3 linked regions of the Homo sapiens genome follow. The protein of the gene in region 2 purifies or fractionates together with the protein of the main gene of each other region. This does not show direct contact. Each region holds a gene or a part of one and is shown on either strand. Other genes may lie near its edges. The genes, in order: EML3, THAP8 and RAB14.

Region 1 (3,653 bases), on a different chromosome or scaffold from region 2:
GGTACTGGAAGAGATGCACTTTGCAGAAGTCGTCGGCCACCGCCACCACGCGCTCGTTGTGGGAGCGGCACAGGGAGTTGATGTCGGTCCCATCGGAGCCGTCCGGCCAGACGCCTAGCACAGCGGCCGGCCTCAGCCCGACCTCCTACCCACCGCCACCCACGGCCCAGAGCTACACCATTTCAGGCGCTCCGGCAGCCGCGGCCACCCACTGCCGCGTTCCAGGCAAGCCTTCCCGGTCCCGAGGGGCCTCCTGGGCTGGATCTTCAGGTTTCTGGACTCTCACCCAACGACACACGCCCAGCGTTCCAAGCCCAAACTGGGCTCCACCTTGTCCCCCACCCTTCCAGCAGGTTTCCACGCCCCTGCTCACCGTAGACGTGAAAGCCCAGCACACAGGTGTAGGTAGCCCATTCCCGGTCTCGGCTCTCATAGCGATTCTTCAGCTGCTTGCAGCCTCCAGCCACGTCCCCTGGGGAGAGGGAGCCCGCCCAGCTCAGCTCTCACCCTGCCCTCAGTAGGGAAGATGCCAGGGAAAGCCAGACTGGAAAGACTGGCATGAAACCCGGCGATGGCATGTGATCTGGTCACCGTAGTAGCATCACCTCCTCCCCCTGTGAAACCCACCCTGTGTGCGTCCTGTCCTGAGCTCTGGCTGAAGTTCTAACAGCTTCCACGAGTTCCTCCTCCCTAGATAAGTCAAGTGCTCCACACTTGCCCTGAGAAACTTTTCCCAAACAATCTTTTCTTAGCGCATTTTTGAACTCCCTCAAGTCAACAAGACATGGTGTGAAACTAGTTGTTTCCAAATCACGAAATTTCTCCTACATATAATTCCAACTCCACTTTAACCCCATCTCCACTTCCTTATCTAACAACACCTCTAACAGCCCCCCCTACACAAAACCCACTCCAATTACCCTCTCCCCATGTCCTGCTCCACTGCCACTCACAGTAAAGAATCTCATAGTCCCCAGAATTGGACATGATGAAATTCCCATCCTTGGACCAGTCAAGATGAGTGATGAAGCTGGAGTGACCCTGGGAGCAAAGGTCAAGAGTTTTAAAGTATCCCATCCATTTCCCATCCCCAGAGCCCCCTTGATGCATCAGACCCCTGAGTTTCGCAGCTGTTATCATGCCCCACCACACACCCCAACTTCCTCACCATACAGCGGCCAAAGCGGCTGGATTTGGCACCATCACTGGAAACACTATAGATGTAGATCACGTTGTCATGGGAACCAATGGCCAGGTACAACCCATCTGCAAATACAGTCACTCAGAGAGGGAAGGGCCAGGGACGCATGTGAGTCCAGGGTTGGGGTGGCTCCCACCTGGGCTGTACCGGACCACTGAGAGCTGCTCATTGCCATCAATGACATCAGACACGATCTCTCTGGTCTCTGTGTCCAAAACCAACCACCTGGAAGGGAGGGAAGTGGAGGCAGATAGGAAGACGAAAAGGCAGGATGTAAGGAGACCCCCAGGGAGGCCACCCTGGGTAGGCTTGGGGATGGCAAATAAGAGAAGCTCAGAGACACACACAGAAAGGCTCTGATGTAGAAGACAGGTCACAACTGCATTCTTCTTTTTTAGTTTGTTGTTGTTGTTGTTGTTGTTTTGAGACAGAGTCTCACTCTGTCACCCAGGCTGGAGTGCAGTGGCAAGATCTCAACGCAACCTCCACCTCCTGGGTTCAAGTGATTCTCATGCCTCAGCCTCCTGAGTAGCTAGAATTACAGGTGCGTACCACCATGCCCGTCTAATTTTTGTATTTTTAGTGGAGACGAGGTTTCACCATGTTGGCCAGGCTGGTCTTGAACTCCTGACCTCAAGTGATCCACCCGCCTCAGCTCCCAAAGCGCTAGGATTACAGGCGTGAGCCACCGCACCTGGCCACCACTGCATTCTTATGCTGAGAAATGGGAAGGAGCTAAGTGTGGATAAAGGCTGAGGGGCTTCTGATGTCGTCTGAAAAAGTAATCTGAAACTACAGACCAGGGGCCGACTACAAAGGCACTGTGCAAGCTGGAAGCCTGTCACTTCCCTGTGTTTGTCTATGCCCCTCCCATTCCCACTGTTTCTCTATCCTGGGCTGCTGCCTCCTCCACTCCCAGGCTTGGAGGAGACACTGGGTTGGGGGAGGGGGAGAAACAGTTACCACAGAAGAGGAGGGGAGCCCGGGTGGCAGGGGCTGCAGGGAGAGGCACAGAGGAGTGCCAAGGCGCAGGTGGCTCCTGGGTAGAGGTGGTCACTCTCGCCCACTCCCCCAGTACCAGGAACCCTTCCCAGTCCTCCCTGCTTTCCCTCCTGGGAGTCCTGGCTCTCTCTCACCTCCCCGTGTTCAGTCCTACGGCCACAACTGCCCCACTCGGGTGGAAGTCAGCACAGAGACCAGTCTCCTGGGAGAGGGGAGAAGGTGAATTCAAGATGATGTCTTTCTAGTGAGGGAACCAGAGTGAACCCCTTGTCCTCCTAACTTCAAAGCCACTTACTCCCAAGGAGAAGATGGGAAGAGAGGGAAGGGATACCCGGGTATCACTGGAGCCTGAACAGGGAGTGATACCAAAATATTTAACCACAGAACTGATGCCAATAGCTGTGCTGGAGATTAACCATTTAGGTGCTGGATCAAGAGGAAGTCTGAGGGGTTCTGGGGGCGGCAGGGAGTGCCCAGGTGGTACTAGAAGCATCAGCTTTTACCAGTCAGTACAGAAAAATTAATATTTGAGTAGCCAGTGCAGCCATACCAGTACAAACTGGCCACCTCTGGGAGGCAGAAGGCAAGGTGCTGGGGAAGGCGTGGTGGCCACAGGTGTCCTGGTGGGTGTGGCATGGGGGATCCAGGGGCACAGGGCTCTACCTTGAGGTCGATGCTCCAGGCCAGTGCATGGCTCTCCCCATCCCACAGGCAGAGCTGCCGGTCGTGGCCGCAGGTGAGGAAGCGGTTCTGGGAGGGGTGTGTGCAGAGCCCCCAGAGCTCATCAGTGTGGCCCTGCAGCACAGCATGACTGTCACTCCTGCCCCTCTCTCACACCCCTTTGTCCCTTCCTCCCCTGAGCCCTTAACCCCCAACCTGGATTACAGGGGAGAAGCCCTGGGCCAGGTCTCCCCTCAGCAATGCATTCTTCGTGGTTCCCACCAGCAGCTCAGAGCCAAGCCCTTCAGCAATGGCTCGCACGGCCCCGAAGTGCTCGGGAATCTGCAGAGTGGTAGCAGAATGTCAAGAGCCCACTGACTATTGCTCTTCTCCCTCACTCCCTTGACCCCAGCCCAGCCCTCACCTCAGCCTCCTGGAGGGCCACCAACCCGGGCCCCCACTGTACCAGCCGGCGGTCCCGCCCGCCACCACTCAGCACTGTCCCGTCCCTCCGGAGACACAAGGCGAAGATAGAACCTTCATGAGCGTGAGCCTGGGCCACAATCCCATAGGTCTCTGTTGGCAAAGCCCCAGGTAGATCATGTTTTGGGGGTGCAGGGGAGTGAGAAACAGGGCCAGCTTGGCTGTCGCAATACAGTAAGAACTCCCAGCCATTGCATGCACTGACTACTATGTCTCATCCTCATACTGCCAACACATCTGTTATTCTCCCCATTTTACAAACAGGACAACTGAGACTCACAGAAATGAGGTAACTTCCTAAAGGCAA
Region 2 (3,653 bases):
GCCCCTCCTTCCAGCCTCCTTCCTGGTCTTCCTGCCCACAGTCCCGCCCCTCCACTCCCAATTTGTTCTTCCACATCAACTTGTTGGAGCAGTTTATAAAATCAGACAGTTACGATGTGGGAGATCGTGCAGCCAAGCGAAAACGTTTCTTCCACACCATATAAATGGGGGTGTGGGGTTTCTGGATTAAGAGAGATTTAAGAAACATCAGCACAAACGCAGGATGTGGACCTTGCCTACAACAAACAATTCAGTAAAAAGACATTTTAAGACAATTGGGGAAAACTGAACATGAACTGGTTATAAGATAATTGTAAGAAACTGGTCAGGCATGGCGGTTCATGCCTGTAATCCTAGCACTTTGGGAAGACGACAAGGTGGGAGGATCGCTTGAGCCCAGGAGTTCGAGACCAGCCTGGGCAACATAGGGAGACCTCGACTCTACAAAAAAAAAAAAAAATTAGCCATGTATGGTGGTACATGCCTGTAGTCCCAGCTACTCGGGAGGCTGAAGTGGGAGGGTCACCTGAGCCTGGGAGGCAGAGGTTGCAGTGAGCCGAGATTGCGCAACTGTACTCCAGCCTGGGTGACAGAGCCAGACCCTGTCTTTAAAAAAAAAAAAAAAAAATTCATTTTGCTAGGTGTGATAACTGTATTGGTTTATACTTCTGAAACAGTCTTCTGTTAGAAATCAGTCTGAAATAATTACGGATAAAAGATCTGATGTCTGGGATTTACTTTAAAATAGTGCAGGACAAAAACTTAGAGGTGTGGGCAGGGCAGGGAAGAAGATTGGCAAAGTGTTGATAACTAGTGACACAGTGATGGATACTGAGGGCTCTACTTTTTGTGTATGCTTGAAAACACCCACTAACAAGTCTTTAAACAACTCAACAACAATAAAACACAAATAACCTGATTCAAAAATGGGCAAAGGACTTGAACAAACATTTCTCCAAAGACATACAAATGGCCAATAAGCACATGAAAAGATACTTGACATCTCCAATCATTAGGAAAACGCAGTATCAGAACCCTGATGAAATATCATCTGACAAACACCAGAACAGCTACTATTGAACAACAACAAAAAAGAGGCCGGGCATGGTGGCTTGTGTCTGTAATCCCAGCACTTTGGGAGGCTGAGGCAGGAGGATCTCCTGAAGGCAGTAGTCCAAGACCATCCTGGGCAATGTAGCAAGACCTTGTCTCTACGAAAAAATATTTTTTAAATTAGCTGGGTGTGGCAATGTGCATCTATAGTTCTATCTACTTAGGAGGCAATGTGGGAGGATTGCTTAAGCTCAGGAATTTGAACGCTGCAGTGAGCTATGATCACACTACTGCATTCCAGCCTGGGTGATGGAGGAGGAGGGGAAGGGGAAGGGGGAGGGAGTAAGAGGGGGAGGAAGAGGAAGAGAAGAACAGTGTGTGTGAGGATGTGGAAAAACTGCTGGAACTCTGGTACACTGCTGGGAATGTAAAACGGTGCTGCCACTGTGGAAAACAATATGGCAGTTCCTCAAACACTGAAAAATAGAATTACCATATGACCCAGCAATCCACTTCTGCTTACATACCCAAAAGAACACAAAACAGGGTCTTGGAGAGATATTTGCACACCTGCGTTCGTAGCAACATAAATCAGGCCTGGCGTGGTGGCTCATGCCTGTAATCCCAGCACTTTGGGAGGCTGAGGTGGGTGGGTCACTTGAGCCCAGGTGTTCAAGACCAACCTGAGCAACAGGTGAAATCTTGTCTCTACAAAAAATAGAAAAATTAGCCAGATATGGTGGCATGTGCCTAGAGGCACAGCTACTCAGGAGGCTGAGGTGGGAGGACTGCTTGAGCCCAGGAGGTTAAGGCTACAGTGAGCCATGATCACATTACTGCACTCTAGCCTGGGCAAAAGAGCGACATGCTGTCTCAAAAACAAACAAACAGACAACAGAAACATAGCAGCATAAATCACAACAGCCAAAAGGTGGAAGTGTCTATCAACAGATACATGGATAAGAAAAATGCTGCATATACATACAATGGAATTTTATTTTATTTAGTCTTTTTTTTGGGGGGAGGGAGGAGATGCAGTCTCACTCTGTCACCCAGGCTGGAGTGCCATGGCGCAATCTCGGCACACTGCAATCTCTGCCTCCTGGGTTCAAGTGATTCTCCTGCCTCAGCCTCCTGGGTAGCTGGGATTACAGGCTCCCGCCACCATGCCCGGCTTATTTATTTATTTTTGCGATGGAGTCTCACTCTGTTGCCCAGGATGGAATGCAGTGGTGTGATCTCGGCTCACTGCAACCTCCGCCCCCTGGGTTCAAGCGACTCTCCCGCCTCAGCTTCCCAAGTAGCTGGGATTACAGGTGCCTGCCACTGCACCTGGCTATTTTTGTATTTTTAGTAGAGATGGGGTTTCACCATGTTGGCCAGGCTGGTGTCAAACTCCTGACCTCAGGTGATCCACCCACCTCGGCCTCCCAAAGTGCTGGGATTACAGGTGTGAGCCACTGCATCTGGCCTGGAATTTTATTTAGTCTTGATCTGACACATGCAACAACACAGATGAACTCTGAGGGCCATTAGGGTAAGTGAAATAAGCCAGTCAAATACTGACGATTTCACTTATATGAGGTAGAACAGTCAAATTCCTAGAGACAGACAGTGGAATGGTGGTTGCCAAGAGCCTGGGGGAGAGGGAAAGAGGGAATTGTCCAATGGGGATAGAGTGTTTTAGGAGAGGAAAAAGTTCTGGAGATTGGTTATACAACACTTAACATTAGTGAATTGTACACTTAATGATCAAAATTGTACACTTAAAAATGATCAAAATGGTAGATTTTATGTGTATTTTGCCACAGGTAAAAATAATTTTAATAGGCCAGGCACGGTGGCTCACGCCTGTAATCCCAGCACTTTGGGAGGCCGAGGTGGGCGGATCACTTGCAGTCAGACCTCAAGTGATTTTGAATTCAAGTTCAAGACCAGCCTGGCCAACATGGTGAAACCCCGTCTCTACGAAAATTACAAAAATTAGCCAGGCCTGGTGGCGTGTCCCTGTAATCCCAGCTACTCGGGAGGCTGAGGCAGAAGAATTACTTGAACCTGGGAGGTGGAAGTTGCAGTGAGTCGAGATCACGCCACTGCACTACAACCTGGGCGACAGAGCAAGACTCCATCTCAAAAAAAAATTTTTTTTGTTTTAAGTTTTAAAAAATAAAAGCTTTCTCAGTGGTTGTGGGTGAGGATTATCTGATGAGGGACCCTCTAAATGTGCCCCACTTCTCCGGTTTCCGGGTGCCACTTATTCCCAGCATCTGCTCTTACCCTCTTAGATGGTAATCCACTCTCTATTTAGACCTGGGCTCAAGGCTACCCATAATAAAGACCTCCTTTTCCAGCCTTATTTGCAGCCAGGGGTGGCCACATGATCAAATGCTGGCCAGTTTGTCCTTAGCAGCTGCCAGAAACTGAGACTGTAAATGTTTATTTCAAGCTGCTAAATTTGGGGATAGTTTGTTATATAGCATTAGATAACTAAGACACATCTCATGCATATCCCATCTTCACAATGTTTTCCATATCTGTGATATTACTTATTTCATATTTTTCTTAAAACTAACCAATTTTAACTATTAAACAAAGATACT
Region 3 (3,653 bases), on a different chromosome or scaffold from region 2:
CCCCATTCAAACCTGGGTAAAAGTAATCACTTAGTCACCTTCAAATTACTGTCTCTTCTGTGCTCTTCTCCCTTGATTTTCCTAATTTCTTTCCCTCTTCTAACTAAAGGTTGTAGCTGTACATACTTTGCTCCTTCTATTTTATGTTAAAGCTATGACTTCTAACAATCCCAAATTTCTACTTCAAATGCTTTAAAGACTATCATAAAATTGTGACCCAATTTTAGTTGTACTAATTTGTGTACCTGCTAATTATCATACATTCATTAAATGTGAGATAACTAATTTTGAAAATGTATCTTAAAATTACAAACATTCATATAGTAGAAACTATTTCCAAATAAAAGAAATGATCACTATTTCGGATTTAATACCAGGGCTCTGTCTCACCACACCACACATTTTTCTTGCTCGTTTCTTTAAAAATTACAAATAAAAACCATAAAAGCAGAATTAAAGGAAAACTACTCAAACTTACTAATTTCAGTAAACAAAGGCAGAAAACATTTAACACTGTAGCCACCAACACTCACAACAGGTCTTCCCTTTCTTATTCTAAGAAGATACTGTCTAGATTTAAATATATTCCCATAGTTGACTGATATTAATACATTTCAGTCAAAAGTATTTGCAGTAGAATTATATTCAATACTAAATAGGCTTAATGTTGCTTTAACAAAAGATTTCTCAGTCTCATTTCTTGAACATGAAACATACTATTGTTAAGGTGAGGAATATATTTTTACCTAACTTTGGAAGGGAAAAAATTCTTCCCCTATTATTTAACAGTACTTTTGCTTTACTTAGAGAACTCTTGAGTCTAAAAAAAAGGACAGGAAATGCTGGTCTGGTTCAAACTCTGAAAACATGAGCCCACTTAACATTACAATCCCCATAAATGAAAAAAAAAATCCTGGTAATATTCTATAACTTGTATACAACTACCGGGACAATTAAAATTCACTTTATTCCACATTTTACAGAAAGTATTCGAATCAAGTTCATATGTAAGTAAAAGATCTTTATTGCCTTTAAAGGAAAAAAAGTACCACATATTTAGACAACAGGCATTTAACACATAATCAACAATTTGCAAACTAATAAGAAATACAATTGTGAGTTACTATTTATTGGGTACTTGACATATGCCGGGCAATGTGCTAAATATTTTACATACAATTTCATTTAATCCTTACTACTATCCTATAACATAGTTAATTATTATCCTCATTTTACAGATGAGGACACAGACTCAAGAGGTAACATGCCCAGGTCACACAGCCAAGTCTGTACTGAACCTAGGACTGTTTTAACTACAGAGATCCCCTCTTAACCACCACACCATCCTGCCCTCTCCACCGTCGTGCCTCCTCCACATGGTTATCAGCTGTACCATGTAGCTCTGCAGTATTCACTCGCTTAATTATAATTTAATATTCTGAATAAGATACATGAATTACATTCAGAGGATGCACTGCAGTCAGAATTTATAGATATAAATGACTGGTAATACTAGTAATACTAACTTATAATACTATAATTCATTTACTTAGAAAAAGTTTCTTGAGAACACTTGAGAGTAAACCATGTAATGATCTATACTACTTTTTATAATTCTTACTTAATTCTCACAACTCTGCAGAGTCATTATCATTATGTCCATGCAAAAAATTAAAGAAACTGAGGTTTGGAGAAATTCACTCATTTGGCCAATGTTATAAAGTTTGTAAATGGTAGACCTAGAACTTGAACCCAGGCCTGATTCCAAAGACCATGATTTTCTCTAAGGTATTATTAGCTTATTTCAGGTATGTACAGGTAGACTGATAAAATAAAAATCAGAGAAAGAGGAAGGATATTAGTGCATGTAAAATTTAGCTATAAACTACCCTTGCTGCCAAGAGAAATATTTACTAAATGCATAGTAAACACTAACAACTGTGCCATGTATTCAACTGACTCCTTAAAAATATTAATATGCTTAATATTGCTTTAATAAAGGATTTCTCAACCTCATCTCCTGAACATGAAACATACCAGTTTTCACCACTGGGGAAACATACCATTTCACCACTGTGAAAATATACCATTTTTCACCACCATTTTCACCACTGTTAAGGTGAAAAATGTATTTTAAAATGGGGTACGCCATCTTGTAAAATTCTGCATATTTCTTTTACTCAACAAAATGATAGACACATTTTCATGTCAGTACATTTAGATCTAAGTGGTTACTGAACAAATATTAAACACTAATTATTGTTGTGACAAAAATAGAATGCATGGTTTCTATTTACTGAATCAGACACCTTTCTAAGATTACACAGACATATAAACGACTAGTTTTGAAACATGTAGGTACAGATGTGAAGGTATACACTTTCATACATACTGCTTGTGGAAATGTGCCAACATTTTGGAAAGTAATCAGTATGTTTAAAAATCTTAACAATAATCCAAATCATCCTTTGGCCCAGAAAGTATCCTACATATACAAAAGCTTCAGCCCATAAGGCTACAGGTATTAGTGCATTTAATGCACCATTTTTACAGCAAAAAACTGGAAATAATCAGCAAAGAAATGACTGAATAAAGTACATCTATAATACAAAATAATATCCATGTAGTTTAGAAACCATTTTGATTGATATGCATTAACCTGGAAATACATCCATGATTTTGTTAAGTGAAAAAACACATGTTGCAGAGTTTTATGCAACAGCATACCCCACTTTCAAACACACACACACACACACACACACTCAACCCTATATTCATATAATATGGAATACACACCAAATTGTGAAAAATACATGGACAGGAGAAACAGGGAATAGAGAAATTATTAACTTTTCTTTATATATCCCTGCACTGACTTACTATAATGAATTAAAAATAAAATTTTCTCTACCGATAAATATTTCAAAAGCCCTTTTCTATTTTAATACAGGTTAAAGAATACCCAAACAAAAACAAACAAATCTCCCACTCATAATATTCCCAACATTATTTCCGCATTTACTGATAATAAGAGGAATATCTTATGAAGCCAATAATACGATTGGGTTCAAAATAGAAAAACCAACACTCAATAGTAGAGGGCATATTTTTGGGAGTTTTTTAATAGCTTAACTACTTACTGTTTGCTCTGATTTTAAAAACTGTTATACAGCTATTCTACTCCTTAGAACCTATGATGTTACTGTATAATTTTTACATAGCTGATCCAAGACATAACAAGGGAAAAGCAACCCATTAAATATTCCAGGTAATTTAATTCTTATCCTTGTTATTTCCACTGATAAGTTTTTTGTTTGTTTTTTAACATGCACGACGTTTTGTTAAAAATACCAGAGCTGAGATGGACTGCTTCTGTAGTTCCAACATAAACATATCTGTTAAGTATCTACTAAGCACAAAGCATTGTGCCAGGCTTTAGCAAGACAGCAATGATCAAAAAAGACAACACTGTCTCTGCCTTCGTGGAACTCAACAACAGAAGCATGCTGACTTGCTTTAGAGGCCCACTAAAATGGACCACTACTACCTGATTTGTCAGTCAGGCGGATAAAACTTCTGTAGTTAATCTAATAATCTAATCTAATAAAAATGAGTGGTCAATTTCCTCAACAGTAGTACAAGTAGCCCACCCA

What was found.
Region 1: the proteins of THAP8 (region 2) and EML3 purify together in Homo sapiens (affinity purification with mass spectrometry; one large-scale study listed by BioGRID and IntAct). This does not show direct contact.
Region 3: the proteins of THAP8 (region 2) and RAB14 purify together in Homo sapiens (affinity purification with mass spectrometry; one large-scale study listed by BioGRID and IntAct). This does not show direct contact.

Annotation. Positions count from the first base shown.
Region 1 is NC_000011.10:62,602,776-62,606,428, forward strand, and holds part of EML3 (echinoderm microtubule-associated protein-like 3), read right to left. Parts: intron 3,440-3,653; coding exon 3,288-3,439; intron 3,206-3,287; coding exon 3,080-3,205; intron 2,999-3,079; coding exon 2,867-2,998; intron 2,406-2,866; coding exon 2,338-2,405; intron 1,427-2,337; coding exon 1,338-1,426; intron 1,267-1,337; coding exon 1,169-1,266; intron 1,042-1,168; coding exon 954-1,041; intron 473-953; coding exon 374-472; intron 115-373; coding exon 1-114. UniProt on the Homo sapiens protein: Regulates mitotic spindle assembly, microtubule (MT)-kinetochore attachment and chromosome separation via recruitment of HAUS augmin-like complex and TUBG1 to the existing MTs and promoting MT-based MT nucleation.
Region 2 is NC_000019.10:36,040,703-36,044,355, forward strand, and holds part of THAP8 (THAP domain-containing protein 8), read right to left. Parts: intron 1-3,653.
Region 3 is NC_000009.12:121,195,283-121,198,935, forward strand, and holds part of RAB14 (ras-related protein Rab-14), read right to left. Parts: intron 1-3,653.